Regions from separate parts of the Homo sapiens genome. Here region 1 is linked to region 2. The links come from fine-mapping of genetic effects on gene expression. A gene starts in region 2. The other region holds a variant in brackets. All regions are shown on one strand. Distances are from middle to middle. Region 1 has its middle 210 kb from the start of EPHA7. Region 2 holds the start of EPHA7 (EPH receptor A7).

Region 1 (5,389 bases), 210 kb before region 2:
CCTAGATGCTCTGAATGACTACATATAAATCAGCGACAAATCTCCCAGTCAAATTATTCCCAAGTTCCTGACCTTCAAAGCTGTGAGCAAAGTAAACTGGGTGTTACAAGCCACTAATATTTCAAGTAATTTTTTTCCCAGAAATACATAACTAAAACAGAATTTATGTCTCAAAATGAGGTCCCGCTGCAACAAAAAATTGAAACAAATTAGCATTGCTTTGAGACTGGAAGCCAGGCAGAAGATACAAGAGCCTTGAGAAGACTATTTGTGAAGAATGAAGGACGTCATTATCAGAACTGTAGAAGAGGTGCCCTCTTGTTATATAATGGAAGGAAGTTGGGCAACAGTTATCTACCTATGAGAACATAGAAAATAGAATATGCCAACCTATTATTTTTGCTAAGGAGATTTCTAGGCAGAATGATGAAAGTAACAACTTTTTTTTTTTTTTTAAAGCAGCAAATGATAAAAGAGAGAGAAAGAAGTTTAAACTGGAATTATAGAAGGCCCAGGATTGTCTTTCTAGCCAGTGAAAATTTCTCGAAGCAAGAAATGGCCTCATGGTAAAGACAAAGTCAAGGGTGCAACTCTACAATCCTTTATTGGAGCTTAGAAAAATTTAAGAATATGTTCAAAGACCCTCTAAGAAATAAACAATGAAACATCCATGAATCTTGCAGATATAATTTCCCAATTTTTAAAATTTTTTTCTGAGTAGTCCTGAATGACCACATTTTTAACTTTTATGGATACATTATAGTTGTACATATTTATGCAGTACCTGTGATATTTTGATACAAGTATACAATGTTCAATGATCAAATCAGGGTAATTGGGATATTCATCACCTTAAACATTTATTATTTCTTTGTGTTACAATCTAACACAATCTAAGAACACTCTAAGCCCACTTTTCTAGTTCTTTTAAAATATACAAAAATATTTATTTATATATATAAATTATTGTTAACTATAGTTGCCCTATTTTGCCACCAAACACTAGATCTTATTTCTTCTAACTGTATTTGTGTACCAATTAACCAACCCTTCTTTATTTCCCCCTCCCCACCACCCTTCCCAGTCTCTAGTAACCATCATTACACTCTCCATCTCCATGAGATCAATTTTTTAGCTTTCACATATGTGTGAGAACATATGACATTTGCTTTCTGTACCTGGCTTACTTCATTTGACATAATGTTCTCCAGTTTCATTATGTTGTTGCAAATGACAAGATTTCATTCTTACTTATGACTGAATAATATTCCATTGTGTATATGTACCACTTTTTAAATTTGTTCATCTATTGATGTTCATATAGGTTGATTCCAGATTTTTGCTATTGTGAATAGTGCTGCAATAAACACAGGAATGTAGGTATCCCTTTAATATATCGATTCCTTTTCCTTTGGATATATATCCAGTAATAGATTACTAGATCATATGGTAGTTCTATTTTTAGTTTGGTTTTTTTTTTGAGAAATCTTCATACTGTTTTCCATAGTGGCAGTATTAATTTGTATTCCCACCAACAGTGTATAACAGTTAGCATTTCTCTGCATCCTCACCAGCATCTATTACTTTTCTGTCTTTTTAATAACAGTCACATTCTAACTGGGATAAGATGATATCTCATTGTGGTTTTGATTTGCATTTCCCTCATGATTAGTGATGTCAAGCATTTTTTCATATACGTGATGGCAATTTATATATCTTCTTTTGAGAAATATCTATTCAGATCTTTTGCTCATTTCCTAACTGGATAATTTGTTTTTTCTGCTGTTGAGTTGTTTGAGTTCCTTGTGTGCCCTGGTTGTTAATCCCTTGTCAATTGAATAATTTGAAAATAATTTATTTCATTCTGTAGATTGCCTCTGCATTTTGTTAATTGTACCCTTTGCTGTGCAGATGATTTTAGCTTGATATAATCCCATTTGTCCATTTTTGCTTTGGCCTCTACCTTTGAGGTCTTACTCAAGGATTCTTTTCTCTGACCACTAATGTCCTGGAGAAATTTTCCAATGTTTACATCTAGTTGTTTCATACTTGCAGGTCTTACATTTAAATCTTTACTCCATTTTGATTTGATTTTGGTGTATAAATAAATTTCTAGACACATATAGCCTATTAAGATTGAACCACGAAGACACATAAAACTTGACTAGATCAATAATAAGAAACAAGATAGCAGTAGTGAAAAGTCTTCCATCAAAGAAAAGCCCAG[G/C]ATCTAATGGCTTAACTGCTGAATTCTGCCAAACATTTAAGGGAGAAGTAATACCAGTGATACTCAAACTATTCCAAAAAAATTAAGAAGGGAACACTATTAAACTCATTCTGTATGGCCAGTATTACACTGATACCAAAACCAGACAAAGACACAATAGAAAAAGAAAACTGCAGGCCAATCTCTCTGATGAATATAGATGCAAAAAACCTCAACAAAATATTAGCAAACCATATTCAACAACACATTCAAAGATCATTCACTATGACCAAGTGGAATTCATCCTGTGGATGCAAGGATGGTTCAATATATGTAAATCAATAAATGTGATACATCACATCAGCAGAATAAAGGACAAAAACCATATGATTATTTCAGTAGTTAAAAAAAGAATTTGACAAAATTCAACATTCCTTCATGATAAAAATTCTCAACAAACTGTATATAAAAGGAACATACCTTAACACAGTAATGGAATGGCCATATATAACAAACCCATGGATAGTATCATACTAAACAGGGAAAAACTGAAAGCCTTCCTTCTAAGATCTGGAACAAGACAAATATACCCACTTTTACCATTTCTATTCAACATATTACTAGAAGTCCTAGCCAGAACAATTAGACAAAAGAAAGAAATACAATGCATCCAAATTGGAAAAAAAGAAAACAATTTATTTTTGCTTGCAGGTTATATGATCTTATATTTATAGAAACCTAAGATGCCACCAAAAAACTATTAACAGATAAAGTCAGTAAAACTGCAGGATACAAAATCCACATACAAAAAAATTAGTAGTATTTCTGTATGCCGATAGTGAACAATCTGAAAAAGAAACCAAGAATGTAATCCCATTTACAATAGCTAATAATAAAACAAAACTCTTTGGTTAAGGAATAAACTTATCCAAAGAAGTGAAAAACCTCTACAATGAAAACTGTAAGACATTGATGAAAGAAATCGAAGAGAACTCACAAAAAAGGAAAGATATTTTGTTTGTGGATTAGAAGAATCAATATTATTAAAATGTCCCTACTATCCAAAGCTATCTACAGATTCAATGAAATCCCTATCAAAATATCAATGACATTATTCACAGAAATAGAAAAAAGCCCCTAAAATTTGTATGGAACCACAAACGACCCAGAATAGACAAATAAATCCTGAGCAAAAAGAACAAAGCTGGAGGCATCACATTACCTGACTTCAAATTATGCTACAAAGCTGTAGTAACAAAAACAGCATGGTAGCTAGGTGTGGTGGCATGTGCCTATAGTCCTAGATACTTGAGAGGCTGAAGCAGGAGCTCAGGAGGTTGCAACCAGCCTGAGCAATATAGTGAGACCCATCTAGAAATAAATAAATAAACCCAGCATGATACTGGCATAAAAACTGACACTGACCAATGGAGAAAAATAGAGAAGCCAGAAATAATTCCACACATTTATGGTCAACTCATTTTTGGCAAAGTCACCAAGAACACATCAGGGAAAGGACAGTATCTTCCTTCAATAAATAGCGCTGGGTAAACTGGATATTCAAATGCAGACAAAGGACATGCTTTTTAGAACACTCTGCTAGACAAAAGGACTTTTAAAAATTCTAAGAGTGTTGTCCTGTAGCACCTTGACTGTCAGGGTAAAGAGGAACTTGTATCTAAGAGATCAGCAGATCCCACTCATGTTTATTAGAGTGAACACTAATGTGATTGATCAGAAACATAAAGTTTGCAAGGAAATTTTACTCGCTATCTTGGATTGAAAAAGAAACAGTTGATGTTCTCACTTACAAGTGGGAGCTAAATGATGAGAACACATAGACACAGAGAGGGGAACATCACACACCCGGGCCTTTCAGAGGGTGGAAGGTAGGAGGAGGGACAGGATCAGGAAAAATAACTAATGGGTACCAGGCTTAATACCTGGGTGATGAAATAGTCTGTACAACAAACCCCCATGACACAAGTATACCTATGTAACAAACCTGTACTTGTTTCTCTTTACTAAAAATAAAAGTTAAAGAGACAATTCAAGTAGGAAAAAAAAGTCTATAATAGGAAGTAGGCTGAGAAAGTCACAAACACAGACCATAAGTCCAGAGAGCAGAAACTAAAACAGCATATCACTCCCATGGAACAGAATCAGGGCCTGATTAAAAACAAACAAACAAACAAAAAAAGACATAATATGCCTAGCTAGAATTCAGAAATGCTTTAGACTAGTGACGGCTACGTTATTCCCATTCCATACTCTCCAACTTTTTTCACTGAAGAGTTTATTGCATTTGTCCTATTCTTGCAGCCACATTGTGTGGTGGGTGTGAGGAAACCAGCTAACTTGTCTCCTTAGTTCACAGCTTTCGCTGAAAGTAACTACACTTGAGAAACCTTTATCATACCAGGACCTGATTTAGATGATGAGCTCCTGGACTTTGAGCTAATATTGTACTGGAATGAGAACATGTGTGTCTTGAAATGGAGATGAGCGTATTTTGTATATGGGAGAGATATGAATTGTAATAGCCACAGGCCAACTGGTAGATAGTCTTGGTCCCTATACACATGCTGAGTCTCATATCAAGAGGTGGAGCCTAATGCCCTTCCCTGTGAATAGGGACTTTCCCGGTAACTTACTTGACTAACAAAGTATAGTGAAAATGACTTTTGGGACCTTGGAGGCTACATCATAAGAAGTTTTTTAGTTATTTTGAGCCTCTTAGAATGCTTGCTCTGGGGACATATTGCCATGTTGTCTAAAGCCCAAAGACATATGCAAAGTTTACATGTATGTGTTTCACTCAACAGTCCTAAAAAAGCTCTCAGCCAGCAGCCTGCCCACACTGCCAGCCTTATGAATGAGCCATCTTAGATATTCAACTCAGTTGAGCCTTCATATGACTCTAGCCTCAACCATCATCTGTCTGCAACATGACGGACTCTGAATAAGAACTGCTAAGTCAATCCATGAACCATGAGACAGAAAAATGAGTTGTTCTTTTAGGCCACTAAAGTTTAGGGTTGTTTGTGACACAACAGTGGGTAACCTATACAAAGTTTTGTATTTTCTCAGAAGAAAGGAATTATTGCTTCAGAGATGTGGCAGCTGAAACACGCTTACATCTCAGATTATCACTCTACATTCCTCCACTTCCTTTGCTAAATA
Region 2 (5,364 bases):
GAGGGAAGGGGGTTTCTTATCTTCCTCTAGCCACCCCCAAATGCCCCAGGAGGCCCGGCACCTGCTTCAAGCGGTTCCCAGCGCTAGCCCTTGGGTACTGCGGGCCGCCTCGGGGCTTGTGAACTCCTAGAACGCCAGCTCTTGGTCGCCGCTGCGCCCTAGAGGCGTCGCCGCCTAGAAGCCGGGCGCACTCGCCGCCCGCCAGCCACAGATCACCACCCTCCCTCCCATCACCCCCGCGCCTTTTATACATCACACTTCTGCATCTAAAGAATTCAGGCTCTTAGAATCAGAATCCTCTTCACGTAGCTTGCACCCAGAAGAGCAAAGAGAACTAGACATTCTGGCTGCAGGAACCTCTCCCCCTAGTGATGCAGTTATTTATAGCCCAAACTCCAGCCCGAGTCTGCGTGTGTTCGCGCGCGGGGTTTCGCCGCGGCGGTGCAAACTTTTCCTCTGGTCCGCTATTCCAGAGGAATCACAGTATGCCAGGGCTGAAGGTTTCTGATCGCTAACGTCAGGGGAGTAGAAATGTGGTTTTGGAGGGGATGAGCGTGCGTTTCTAGCAGATGTCCGTCCTTCTGCAAACGCGTAACCGCCAGCTTGGAGGCACGGGGTTCTCTGAATGGGTTCAGCATCTATACAGGTTGCAGATGTGGAAAGTGGGGTCAGAAGGTCAGGCTGAAAGAAGGACTAGAATTTGGCGCCGGGTTTGAGGGGGGCTTGAGCGAACTAAGAGGAGTGCACGATGAGAATAAAGAAAAGGTGCACTAAGTTTTCAGAAATAGATGAATCAAGGACCTATATGTAAGTCCCCTCAACACCCCGCCCGATAACCACCATGACCTAAATTTCATAACAGATTCCTCTCCCTCTACACATCAGGAATAAGTAATTATTTCTCTTCTGCTTTTAACAGATCGAAAAATGAAACTTAGATACACAGCCTGAAAGACCAGGGGGGCGACGGGATGAGGGGGGTTGGGGATGGGATTGTGACACTGCTCAAAAGCAAGAGACTTCCATTGACAGGGTTTATTTTTCCCCAGCTCCAACTACAGGCACCGAAAGGTATTTTACCTTCTGTCAAAGGTTCAAAGAAGGAAAACATAACCATATACAGGCGTATCTGTAACAGCTTGCCAAATAAAACCTGCCTTCTCCTACCAGAACCAACCCTCAGGGTTCAGGTCTTTGGCAAGGATTGGGCACTCGGATTCCTCAATTGCTGCACTATGGGGCAAATAATTGGGGACTTTGAGTCGCCCAGGCGGCATCCTTACAAATTGCACAGCTCCAGCCCGCCCCCTGCCTCCACGGCCCGACCAAGCCCGCTGGGCTGCCGCTGCCCCCATGACCGCTGGGCCCGACGCGCAGCGCGCGCTGAATGGAGACATCCCCGGCCCTCGGGTCGCGCGCCGCACGCCGCGCTTCACCTCCGCGGCGTTATTGTTCCGTGCTGGCGGCCGAGCGCCAACCGCAGGACCGCGCCGCCGCCTCCGACGCAGTGAGCACTTCATTAGTAACCCGAGCTTTCCGAGCTCATCGAAGTCTCGGTCCCTCTGGGAAGGCTCCGGGCTCCCGCCACTCGCCGGCGGGCTGGCGGAGACGGTAGGGGCTGCATTTCCCAGTCTCCAACCCAACTCTGGCCGCAGCTCCCACAGAAGGCGAATAAGGAGACAAGGAAGACCGAGCTAGAGAGAGATGTGACCCGCCTGAGGTACTAAGAAATAAGCTCGCCGGCAGTTCCTCCAACCCCACCCCACCCCCGTTGCTGCTCACGCCCTCCAGACTGCCCGCGCCAGAAATCCCGCACCCGTCGGATGGACGGCTCCGGGCACAGGGCTGTAGGCGGCTCGGAACAGCCCTGGTTCGCGCTCGCTGGTCCGCCAGGAGCGGCCTCAGCGGTGAGGGGGCGGGGAGCCGGCGGGGGAGGGTCGCCCGGCGCCGGAGGCGCGGCCGGCAGCGCCGCGGACGAGCTGGCTTGTGCAGGTAGACATCTAAATAAATAAGTCAGAACAAACTTTGCTTTCCCATCACCTTACCTTCCTTCGCAGCCTGCGCCTCCCCTGTGTGTGCAAAGCGGAGCAGCCAGATGTAGCATAAAATAATCCATGAAGGGTACCGAGTTTGAAAAACCATGGTGCATGAGCAGGTTTTATTTTAGGTTTCAGTTATCTTGAGTCGTGGATTTTTAAATGCTGTTTGTTCCGAAGTAGCTTTTGTTTTATTGTGCTCCTTGCATCGATTCCCCTTCTCGGTCCCCGATCGGCTGCTCCACGTTTAGCTTTTTTTAATTTCCCCCCCACTCCTGTTCGCTCGCACCGTGTTTGCTGCCTGCAAGTCTCCGACTGCAGACCGGCCGCTTGCTCCACACTCCAATAATATCAATTAGGGGGGGAGGGGGCGGGGCTCCGAGCTGAGAGCCTCCGCCACTCGGGCTGAGTGGCAGGCACAGCCGGCCTGCCAGGAGGCGATTCCCAGGGCCAAGGGGCGGGTCCCGGCGAAATGGCCGCCCCGGCCACGGGGGCGGGGTCCGAGGCAGGAGCCAATCGGTGCCGAGCGGAGTCAGGTTGCTGGTCCAGGATTCCCTCCAGGTTCTGAGCTCGCGCTGGATGTTCAGAGGAGAACGAGGATGGTAGCCGAGGTGTGTGCTGCTTTGGACGCTCTGCTTTTAGCAACCGCAGCTTTCGCGTAGCAGAATAAATCCGAGAATAACGCTCCCAACTTACACTCTTTTCTATAGCTGTACTCCGCGCGATCTTTTAGAAACCAGAGGCGAAGCAAGCCTTCTCTCAGCTACCAAGCACGGAGCCCGGACAGTGAAATGAGCTGTGCCTTTAAGTAAAGTGTGTTTTACTTTTTTGTTGTTAGAACCTCCGCGGGCTGGGTAACTTTGTTTTTTGCCTTTTTGAAAAGTTTCTACTTCTCTTTTTCTGTTACTCCAAGAGCCGTCAGTTTTAGGTACCACCCACCACAATCCCTGAAAGAATAAAGTAACCAAGTGTATTATGTTTAAACAATGTTTCCAAGAGTTTGCAACAAGCTCTGGCAAAAGAAACAGAGGAAAAGGGAGTGGGAAAGGAAGTCTTTTGTTTTAAGCGCCCCTTCTCCTCCGCCCTGTCTTTTCACCATAGTTTGTTGAGCGAAGTGAGACATTAGGAGAGAACCTTCTGATGGTTGCGTATCGTTTTTTTACGCGTTTATCATTTTCTAAGGTTTTCCTTGGATTGCCTCCACTTTGATAGTTTTCCATTTCGCTGCATAAATTACACTGAATTTTAAAGAATGCCACTACGTATTAAATTCATAAAGCAAGACCTTTCTCTTCGCAAGTATTTACCATTTTCAGGAATTATTCAATGCTTATCTTTCAAAGAGAAACTAAGAATAAAAAAAGTCATAACCAATATCTCCAGTTGAATTCATTCAACCCGAACGGCAAGGAAGGCTGCGTAGAGAAATCTGTTTTCCATTAGGCAGTTTCGGACACTTTGTATTCAAGAGGTAGGTAATAAGAGGAAGAACTTTAAAATTTTAATTGCCAAATCTTCAATTTCAAAGGTCACACAGAGTAACTTGATCACATGTTTAAGATGAATTTCTTTTTTTGTCCTATAATTTCTTCCTTTAAAAATATTTCTCAGTCATTTATGATTTCCTTTTATTTCCGATAGATCCAAAGTTTGATCTCACATAAGGCTCCAAACTTTTTCCAACCTTTCTATCTGGAAATATAAAGTAAATTGAGTTGTTTCTGCTTTTTATAGTAGGGAGTTCTCTAAGATGACAACCCCCAGATATTTATTTGTATTTTATGTTAAATTGTCTCCTGTAGTTTTTATTTGCCTAATAAAATAACATGGAAGAGAGATATGAAATTTATTCTTTAAACCTCTTTGATTCTGTAGTTTCTGAAACATTTCTTCAATGTTACATATTCCTAGCCATTATGCCTATTTAATATTTTAGAAAGTGTATCAAAAAGCATCTTCAGTGTCCCTTAAAGGATGCATAGAAAATGTAAATGCGTAATAGATTAACCTTAGAAAGAGACAAAAAAAAATATGGGGAGAACACACTTGTTATAGAGGAGATGAAGCTTTATTTACACAAATAGATGATTTAAGGATGAAACTTGTAAACTAAAACATAAGAGTTAAAAACATAAATCCCTGCACTTAGTCTTTAGAACTCACAGAACTACAAACTTACAAATATTAAACCACTTCTAATAGTTAAAACGAATTCTCCAGGATTTCAACACTTTCCCCAGGGTCTCATCCCCACTTCTTAAAATGACACCAAGGTGGCCTTTAAAGTTTAAAATATTCCTTTCATCTATTGAATGACTAATACTCAATGATGTGAATACAAATACTTTTCCATTAAAACCAGGAAACCAAAGAAGTAACATCCTTCACTCCTCTGATGAGTGTAGGTGGTATAGTGAGTCCTCTTTTTGTGTCCCTTCTCTCTGTCAGACACAGGGGCATGTGTAACTTTACTCTTATTTTTAGAGACAAGAAGCTTCACATTAAATGCACATGTGCCAGGCTGCTGACAGTTCTCCCTGCATAGCTGCACAGTGATACTGATTTTTAGGTTTTTCAAACTTCTCTTCTTTCTTTTGTAGTATCTAGATATATTGACAAAGAATTCGGAGCATTTAAATAAAAATAAATGACAGTCAAGAAGACAGTGTTCAGCATACAGTATATGATTAATATATAAATTTACACTCGACTGTATTTGACTAATGATAAAGCATATAGACCTATTTGTACATGAAGCCACTGACATAAAAATTATCAGTATACAAAACTTTCTCATTTTAAAATAACATAATGGTGAACTTCCTCACACCATTACAATTTATTTTAGCTTCATTTTATGATTTAAGCATATTATTTCTAATCAATTATTTTTAATAATGCGATGTGTTTGTATATAAAGTGAATTCAAAAGGAACTTGTCTTCCTGAGCAATACCAAATAGTGTATGAGACCAACACCTGTGCGCCAAAGCAATAATTCTGAAAACTAGTTTTACATTTTTATGCATTCATTGTACAACTAAGTTGATAGCGTCGTCCACATATATTTAGTGAATTTTAAGTAAATGGAAACAGAGACTAAGACCTTAATATTTCAATTTTATATCCCCTCTGTTGCAACATCTATAATAAATGTATAGTGGAAAGATGAAAAACGCCTCTCTTCAGATACTAAGGAGATATACCCAATTTTAATGCATTTTGTATTATTTATTTGTATAATTACCAATAATCACATGACTGTACATGTAGGGAAATGTCCAAATTCAAGACACATTCTAAATGAGGGTACACCTGCTATTTTGTTT

Evidence for each region. PIP is the estimated chance that this variant, and not a neighbour inherited with it, causes the effect.
Region 1: its variant is the best candidate, but not a certain one, in a credible set for the expression of EPHA7 in esophagus muscle (GTEx, PIP 0.51).

Annotation. Positions count from the first base shown.
Region 1 is chr6:93,203,821-93,209,209 of GRCh38, forward strand. No RefSeq gene overlaps it. Among named protein-coding and RNA genes, the nearest start is that of EPHA7, 210 kb to the right of the region's middle. The variant G/C (reference allele first, on the strand shown) is at 2,228.
Region 2 is chr6:93,417,200-93,422,563 of GRCh38, forward strand. EPHA7 (EPH receptor A7) reads right to left here and starts at 2,360. Exons shown (of 17, transcript NM_004440.4): 1 at 2,046-2,360. The coding sequence starts at 2,142. RefSeq lists a silencer at 2,408-2,607.